Linked DNA regions of Homo sapiens: region 1 is reported to be linked to region 2. Evidence: microRNA targets listed by miRTarBase, many of them from high-throughput screens and not tested one by one. Region 2 holds a microRNA gene; the other region holds the end of a gene's coding sequence.
Evidence for each region. The annotated mature microRNA hsa-miR-4298 reads CUGGGACAGGAGGAGGAGGCAG and lies in region 2 at 2,463-2,484, shown strand. An mRNA with a match to its seed (bases 2 to 7 or 8) in the 3' UTR can be bound and repressed. Matches are read on the target gene's strand: a 7mer-m8 pairs with bases 2 to 8, a 7mer-A1 pairs with bases 2 to 7 and ends in A, and an 8mer does both.

Region 1: the mRNA of CHAC1 is a reported target of hsa-miR-4298. Seed matches in the 3' UTR shown: 7mer-m8 at 2,825-2,831.

Annotation. Positions count from the first base shown.
Region 1 is chr15:40,954,919-40,959,308 of GRCh38, reverse strand. It overlaps CHAC1 (ChaC glutathione specific gamma-glutamylcyclotransferase 1), which reads right to left. Exons shown (of 3, transcript NM_024111.6): 3 at 2,797-3,936. The coding sequence ends at 3,535. Among named protein-coding and RNA genes, the nearest start is that of CHAC1, 3.6 kb to the right of the region's middle. RefSeq lists enhancers at 1,021-1,557, 3,060-3,610.
Region 2 is chr11:1,857,599-1,861,988 of GRCh38, reverse strand. MIR4298 (microRNA 4298) reads left to right here and starts at 2,453; the gene lies at 2,453-2,525. The region is part of intron 1 of LSP1 (lymphocyte specific protein 1); the gene reads right to left.

The DNA of each region.
Region 1 (4,390 bases), not on the chromosome of region 2:
CTACAGTAAATGTTAATAACTATATCCGACATAAACAAAAGCTCTTGGGGTCCTCCACAATTTTTCATTTGTGAAGGGGTCCTGAGACCCCCGCAACTCCTGTGCCCTCAGTTATCCCTGTTTCTCTCTCTTCTTAGCAACCATGTTTCCTGAAAGCTGCTTCCCCTCCCACTGGCCCCTCAGCCCTGCCTTGTGGCTTTCCATACTGTTCCTGAAATTGCTCTCACTGAAGCCACAAGGGACCCCCCCTGGCATTTCATCCAGTGGACACTCTTCTGTCCTCGTTTCTCTTGACATCTTGGCCATCTTGGCAACATGACCATGTTGTGCACCTCCTGGAGACACCTTCCACCCTGGCTCTCCTCACCCTGCCCTCTCCTCGTTCTCCGCCTACCTCTCCAGCGCTTGTTCCCGACACCTCTTCTTGCTTTGCTCAGACCACCGCGGCTGGGGTCCTCAGGGCCTGGCCGGGCCCTGTTCTCCTCTCCTCCCCTACCAGGGCTTTAAGCCCAGTCTCCACATGTATGGTTCCCAAGTCTCTAACTCCAGCCCAGCTTTCTCTCCTGACTCCCACACCAACATATCCAGCTGCCCTGAACATCCCCGTAGAAGTCATTCCTCCCCTCACAGGCACCCCTAACTTAAACGCAAGGCTATCTACCCCCGACTCTTTCCAGATCTGCCACTGTCCCAGGAGCCCCAGCCCTACTGTCTCTACCCTCCTTTCACTCTGCTCATCAAACCAGCCACCAAATGCTGTCAACCTCACCCCTAAACAATTCTGCAATCCCTCCACTGTCCATTCCCACTGGCACACCTCAGCTTGGGCACCCTACAGCTCCCTCTGGCCTCTCTCCTCCAATCTGACTTCAGCCAGTGTTCTCTCTTAAGCACATCTCTGCCCTTCTCAGAATCCACCAGAGGCCCCCACTGACCCAGGAGGAATGCCACCCCGCAGCATGGCACAGCGCAATTCACCAGGCCGGCAGTCCTGCCACCTGTCTGGCTCGTGTCTCCTGTCCGGGCCACTCTGTTCCAGCTGGTCTGAGCTTGCCTCCCCTCAGGCACGTGTTGTTCCCTTACTCTCTGTTCCTCAGAGGCCCCTTCTCAGGTTCCCTCTCCAAGAAAGCCAAGAAGGCCTTCCCTGACTGCCCTGCTCAAGTCAGAAGCCCTTTCTGGGTGCTCAAGGCCCTCTTCTCCCATTCCACGCTGAATGGTCACCATCAGTTTCTAGACTCCAAGTTCCTTGAGGAGGAGGAGTTCTTTACCGCTGTATCCCCGTGCCTGGAATGGTGCATGGCACACAGTGGGAGCTTAAGGAAATACTTGCTGATCGAATGGCTTGATGGGTGAAAGCCCCCTACGTGCAGCTGGCAAGCAGCCCTCCCCACCATCAGCTCCCAGGATGGAGCAGGGCTGTGCTCTGGCTGTCTGGCAAGAGGCCCAGGAAACACAGGAGGCAGCTGCCCAGGGCTCCCTGCCACCTGCTGCCTCCTCCTTTTGTGTTGCCCTCACCAGGCACCCAGAAGAAGCTGGCTGGACTCCACACTCTTCCCATCAATGGCCAAGACACAAGGCCGCCAAGACATGAGCACACGGCCCAGGCATGGCACCCTCCCCAGCCACAACGGCTGCACAACCTGATCGGAGTTGACCCTGCTGGAGACACCCAGACCAATCCAGGACACCAGCCGCAAGAACAGCAGCAACACATACCACCCAGCCTGCCCCATACATCATCCCACGGCATCGTCCCCTCACAGTGAACTTGTACCCAGGGGGCTGAAGGCTTTTTCCGAGGTGACTGGGCAATGAGGAGGAGGCTGGGTTGGACTCTCAAGGCACTTTTTTTTTTTTTAATTTCCTTTGTATTTTTTATAGAGATGGGGTCTCACTGTGTTGTCCAGGCTGGTCTCGAATTCCTGGGCTCAAGTGATTCTCCCACCTTGGCCTCCCAAAGTACTGGGATTACAGGCATGAGCCACCACACCCAGCCCTTGGCCTCAAGCTCTTCTGCTGCTAGAGCCTGTCATTTTGGGTCTGCCCCATTCTGCAAGTTCAGGGATTGAGTAGCACTAAGAGGCCACTCCTGATGAGGAGCTCAGGCCCAGGCTGAGATCCTGGAGCTGTGATCTGTCCCCAAGGGCTAGACAAGAACATCTGGGGACAGGCAGGGGGTAAACTTGGGGCCCGCATTCCAGTGTGGGTAAACCAGGGCAGGTGATGGCAATGGGGAAGGCACAGGCAACACCACACTCCCGGAGGCAACAGTGAGCACTCAGACTCTGAAAGTAAAAGGGACACCAGGTCCTCCAGGCTACAGGTCCCTGCCATTAGCCTTGCCTTAGAAGTTGTCATCACCCTACCCTAACCCACGTGCTCCTTTAGCAGGACACCAGGGTTCTGGCCTAGCTGTTAGGAAGAGGCAGCCGCTGGCCCTGCAGCTGGAGGAAGAGCTGGTCTGAGCTCCAAGCCTGCCAGCCTCCTTGGGGCAGCTGGGCAGGATGAGACAGAGTCCAGGTTGGTGGCAAGGACACTGCTCACAGGGCTGCCAAGTAGAGCATGAGCTGAATTCTGCACAACTCAGGGGGTACTATTTGCATGCGTAAGGCATGAACTGTACCCATGAGAGTGATGTCACCTGCTAATTCTGCCTGCCCAGCTGCCCCTCCTGGGAAGAGAGGGAAGGAGAGGAAGAGGGAGCCCTTTCCCCTCTTAGGAGCCTTCCAGGGCATCACCACCTCACTTGCCCCAAACCCCCATCTGAGAAAGAACCACATTCCGGCACAGCACAGATAAAGAGATAGTTTTATGGGTAACAGTATGGGACAGACTGGGAAGGTTGCCAGGGCCTGTAGTGATGAGCTTCCCAGGAATAGACCAACACACAGGCAGGAGTGGCCCAGACAGACAAGTAGATAGACAGACAGACAGAGGGACAAGAAAACAACCAAGTGGGTAAGAGGCCCAGGCCAGGCTCAGCAGCTGTGTCCAGGCATCAGCTCCAGCTCTGCTCTGGGGAACTGGTGGAGGAGAAGGGCTGGCCGGGGCCTCAGTCCTTACAGGGCTCCTTCTCCTCATGCCCTACTATCCCTCATCCAGCCTGCTGGGATCCTTGGCAGGTGGAATTCCCAGGGCTATGGATGGCTGGGCTGAGTGAGCAGAGGATCGAGGCTCTTGGAGACTCCCTGGGGAGGTGGAGGCCTGGGTGGTGTGGGGTTAGCAGCAGCACTGGGGGGAATCTGGTCAAGTTCCAGGATGGGGCCACTGCTCAGCAGGGCCCCTGTGTCCAGGGCAGGCCCTCCACCTGCCCACCACACCAACATGGTGCAATAAATAAAGTTTCAAGTAGTAAGTCAGTGTCAAGCAGGAGAGCTGCAGGCTGGCAGACAGGCAGGGACTGAGAAAGAGAAGCCTCCAGCCACCCACCATATCTGCTCAGTGGGCTCAAGCGGTCGCAAGTCTGTCTTGTGCACTGGAGTGGGTGTCTGGCCCTGATGTCCACATGAGCACTCCCCGCAGGGGCTCAGCCCCTCACACCAGCGCCAGAGCCTGCTCGGTGGGGCAGAAGCAGGGCAACATGGTGCCCACAGCGTCCACGATGGCTGCCAGGTGCTCGTCCTGCGCCTGAGGCCCACAGAGCTGCATGAAGTCTGCCAGACGCAGCAAGTATTCAAGGTTGTGGCCGGAGAAGCCCCGGCAGGCCAGGATCTGCGTGGCAATGGCCTCTTCAGGCGCAGGGCCCAGGTAACCAGGGTTCTGTGGGGTGGCCACATAGGCCAATGCCTTCAGTGGTTGGTCAGGAGCATCTTGGGGATAGAAGGTGACCTCCTTGGTATCGTAGCCACCAAGCACTGCCTCTCGCACATTCAGGTACTTCAGGGCCTTGCTTACCTGCTCCCCTTGCACTTGGTATGCCACGCCCCAAGTGCAGCCCTGGGAAGAAATAGGGACACCCGGGGTCAGTCATGACAGCTCCTTGCTGCTCCCTCTCCTATCCTAACATGCCACCCCCACCCAGGACTGTGCTCTATAAGGGAGGCTGTGGTCGGCTGATGAGCCATCTGGTGGCAGTACCTCAAGCCCTTGTACTCTCTTTGTTAAGAACAGTTGAAAGGCCAGGCGTGGTGGCTCATGCTTGTAATCCCAACACTTTGAGAGGCCAAGGCAGGTGGATCACTTCAGGTCAGGTGTTCGAGACCGGCCTGGCCAAAATGGTGAAACCCCATCTCTACTAAAAATACAAAAATTAGCCAGGCATGGTGGCGTACGCCTGTAACCCAGCTACTCGGGAGGGTGAGGCAGTAGAATCGTTTGAACCCAGGAGGTGGAGGTTGCAGTGACTTCAGCCTGGGTGACAAGGGTAAGACTCCGTCTTAAAAAAAAAAAA
Region 2 (4,390 bases):
ACCCATCCATCTATTCATCCATCCATCTATCCATCCACCCATCCATCCACTCATCAATCCATCCATCCATCCATCCATCCATCCGTTCACCCATCCATCTATTCATCCATCTATCCATCCACCCATCCATCCATCCACTCATCAATCCATCCATCCATCCATCCATTCACCCATCCATCTATTCATCCATCCATCTATCCATCCACCCATCCATCCATCCACCCATCCACTCATCCACTCATCCACCAATCCATCCATCCATCCATCCATCCATCCATCCATCCATCCATCCACCCACCCATCCACCCATCCACCCATCTATCCATCCATCCATCCATTCACTTATCCATCTATTCACCTATCCATCCATCCATTTACCCATCCATTCATCCATCCATCCAACCATTCATCTATTTATCTATCCATTATCCATCTATCCATCCATTCATCCATGCATCTATCCATCCACCCATCCATCCATCCACCCATCTATCCATCCATCCATTCATTCATCCATCTGTCTATCCATCTGTCTCTCCATCCTTCCATATATTTATTCAATAAATCTGTACTGAATTCAGACACTTTGAAGGTGCTGGGGATTCAGCATTAACAAAGTCCCTGCTCTTATGATGATCATGTTTCAAGTGTGGGAACAAACACATAAATAAATAAAGGTCAGATGATGGAAAATATGACAGAAAATATAAATCAGGGTAAAGGCATATGGAGTTCTGGAGGGGATTGATATTTTACGTATGATAGCCTCATGGAAATAAGTAATTCTTTCCTTGGGTCTTTATATATGAAAGCCTCATGGAAAGAAGTAATTCTTTTCTTATTTGAAAAGAGATGAGAGAAATGGGAGGAAGTGTTCCTGGAAGAGAGTGCAAAATTCCTGATTTAGTAGTGTCTACTCACACATCCGTCTTTCTAATAGTTTACTCAGCACGGATTCAATTGTCTATTGATTCATTATCTATCTATCTTTCTACTCATCTCTTGTTATATCCACCCACGTATCCATCTATTCATCTATTATCCATATCCATCCATATGTCTACTTCTCCTGACATCCTTCTATTAATCTTTCCAATCATTTATATGTCCATATTCCAGCCATCCAATCATCCACCCATACATAATTCCATCTCATGTGTCCTTCCATCAATACATTCATTTACCCATTTATACACCCATTCATCCATCATCCATTCATCCATAAATCCACTCATCTTTTGTTTTGGTACATTTGCTCATTTAGCTGTTGGGCTGATGATCAGCCAATATGCACAGGTACAACACAGTTCAATATAGGAATATATATAATCAGCACCCATTCCAGTAGATTCATATTTGTACCACATGCTTTGTTAAATATTCTAAATATCACATCTGCATTTATCTATCCACCCATCCATTCGTTCTTTCATCCAAACATCCATATATACATACAGATGTTCTTCTGTCCATCCATCTATTTTTTGTTCATCTGCTCATTTGTTCATCCATTCATCAATTACTAAATAATTCTTTCTATTTATGCATGAGTTATACTCTATTTATACATGAGTCCATCCAACCCATTCATTCATCCACCCCATCCATCTGCCCATCCATTCACCCACCTGTCCATCGATCCATGCACCTATCCATCCACTCATCCCTCCATCCATCCACCCATCCATCCATCATTCAATTATCCATCCATCCATCATTCAATTATCCATCCATCCATCCATCCATTTGTTCCTACTTCCTATCATTCTTCATTCATCTTTCCATTCATTCATACTGTTCTCCATAATTGATTCTTTTCTAATCTTTATTTTTCCTTTCTTATGCAACTAAGACATGGTTCATAAGCTCATGGCCCAAGGATAAAGCAGACCACCATGGCCCAGGAGGCTGAACACCTCAATAGAGCCTAAGCAGGGGCTACAGGGGCAGGGATCTGTCTTCATATTGACACATTCTCATCATCCCCGACACATACCTGCGAATGTATGTTCACAGAGCAGCATCCCAGTGAAAGGTGCTTTGAGCACTGAGAGAGCCCATGGGGACAGGGGAGGTCAGGGTGGTGGCCTCATTGGCTCCCGAGTGATCCCTGGTGGATAAATGTCTGTGATTTAAAGAGGAGGCAGCCTCCAAATGCTTGCAGCATGCATCTGTTCAGTGTGGCCCTCTGTTCAAGCAGGCACTGCTGACAGCAGGAGAATGGGCCAGAGCCACGGGTAGGGGGCAGGGTGGTGGGTCATGGGTGCTGGGGGCTGGGGGCTGGGGGCTGGGGGCTGGAGGCTGGGTGGTGAATGGTGGGTGCTGGGTGGTGGTGATGAAGCTCAGATTTTGGTTGGGACTGGGTCTAAGAGAAAGGCTAAAGGATTATTTCTAGATTCATCTGGAACGAATTGGCTAGATCCTTCTATCCCAAGTCCCATTGCTTTTCTGAGGGGAGGTACCTGGGACAGGAGGAGGAGGCAGCCTTGCCTCAGAAACCAAACTGTCAAAAGTGTAGGTTCCACTCAGGAAGGAGGAGCACAGGCACTTTTGAGATGAGGGGGACGTGCTCTTCTCTGGAGCAGAAAGAAGCAGTAGGTGAGGTCCCACCTGCCAGGGATGGAGCAGGAGAGTGACCCCTGCATAACCTTGAATCCTCATCTGCAGCCCATGAGCAGCTGGAGACTGGGGACTCTGGGAAGGGTACTGGGCTTAGAAGCCACCCCCTGCCCCAGTGGACAGAGTATCCTGGACACCTCAGCCACTCTCCCTGAGCGTGTGGTGTGTGTAGAGGCCCCTGCGTCTATACCACTGCTCCCAGGGAAACTGGGAACCCAGGAAGTATGCTGGAACCCTTCATGCTGTGACCTACAAATGCCCCACCAGAGCGGCCCTGCTCCAAGCACTGAGGTCAGGGGCCCATGTGCCTGCCTCCTCCTGCCGGGGGATACAGGGGACTCAGAGGCCCTCCCTGCCACAAACTCCCTTCCCCGACAACCCACAAGCAGCTTGGAGGCAGTTAGCAGATGGAGTTAGGATAGGACTTGCCTGGCCCCAAGAAAGGGCCAGGGGCTTTCCTCCTGCCACCCCTGCTCAGCATCTCCCTCCTCCCTTGTCTGCCTGTGTCTGGCACTGGTGGGGCCGTGCTGGGTGGGACACGGCTAGGAGGCCTGGCTTTCTCAATCCCCTAATCTCCTATCAACCCCACCCCCATGCAGCCCCTCCAACCTCTTTTCAGGTCCCTAGATGTTGGGGAGGGGATGGGGGCTGGGCCGGCTGTAGAGAGTCTAACCCTGGGGAAGGGGCCCTGCTGGGCTGCCCCCTGGCCGAGCCTCTCCAGCCCGCTCGCTTCCCTCTCTTCTAAGTATCAATACAGCCTCGTCCACAGCCAGGGCCTGGTTCTGTCTGCCTCAGCGCATGTGGAAAGCCCTCTTCGATTGCCTTATGGTCCTGGGCTGCCATCTCCCAGAAGGTCTTTAGTGGCCCCCAAAAAGATGCTGAGGGCTGGGATTTGGGCGGGGCTGGGCTGGAGGGAAGTGGAGGACCTTGCTGGTCCTGCAGCGCCCGGTCCCAGTTCCGCTTTTCGGGACGGTCCCTTTAAGTGCTTGCTGAGCTTGGGCCATGAGCAGTGCTCTGGTGCTCTTGGGAGCCTTTGAGTCCAGAGTGGCTGGTGTGTGGTGTGGGGTCAGAGAGACCCCGGGAAGGGCAGCCCAGCCCAGCTCCCTCCTGGTGCCCGCAGGTCTTGTGGGCCCTCAGCACCCGAACCCCACAGGGGCAAGGACTCAGGCCCCTCCCCAGGCAGGGAGCAGCCCTTGGACAATGCACTTGGCCCCTGTGAGCCTCGGTTTCCGTCTGTGAAATGGGAGGCTCCAGGGACCTGCCTCACAGCTCCGGGGGATGAAACAAGAGCCTTGGTTTAAAAAGCTTGGCAAAGGCAGGGCGCGGTGGTTCATGCTTGTAATCCCAGGACTTTGGGAGGCTGGGGCGGGTGGATCACCTGAGGTCAGGAGTTCAAGACCAGCCTGGCCAACATGGTGAAAGCCTCTTCTCTACTAAAAATACAAAAATTAGCCGGGGGCAGTGGCAGGTGCCTGTAATCCCAGCTACTCAGGAGGCTGAGGTGGGAGAATCTCTTGAACCTGGAGGGCGGAGGTTCCAGTGAGCCGAGATTGTGTCACTGCACTACAGTCTGGGCAACAGAGCGAGACTCTGTCTCAAATAAATAAATAAATAGCTTGGCAAAGACTGGCATGGAGTGAACGCTTGGTCTGAGTGGCTACATTCTGAGTGTGCAGATGGGGAAACTGAGGCTTCAGAGGGGTGCGGCTTACTCATCCAGAAAGCACTCCGAGGGCCTATAGCAGCCGAAGCAAGGCCAGCCCTGGGGCCT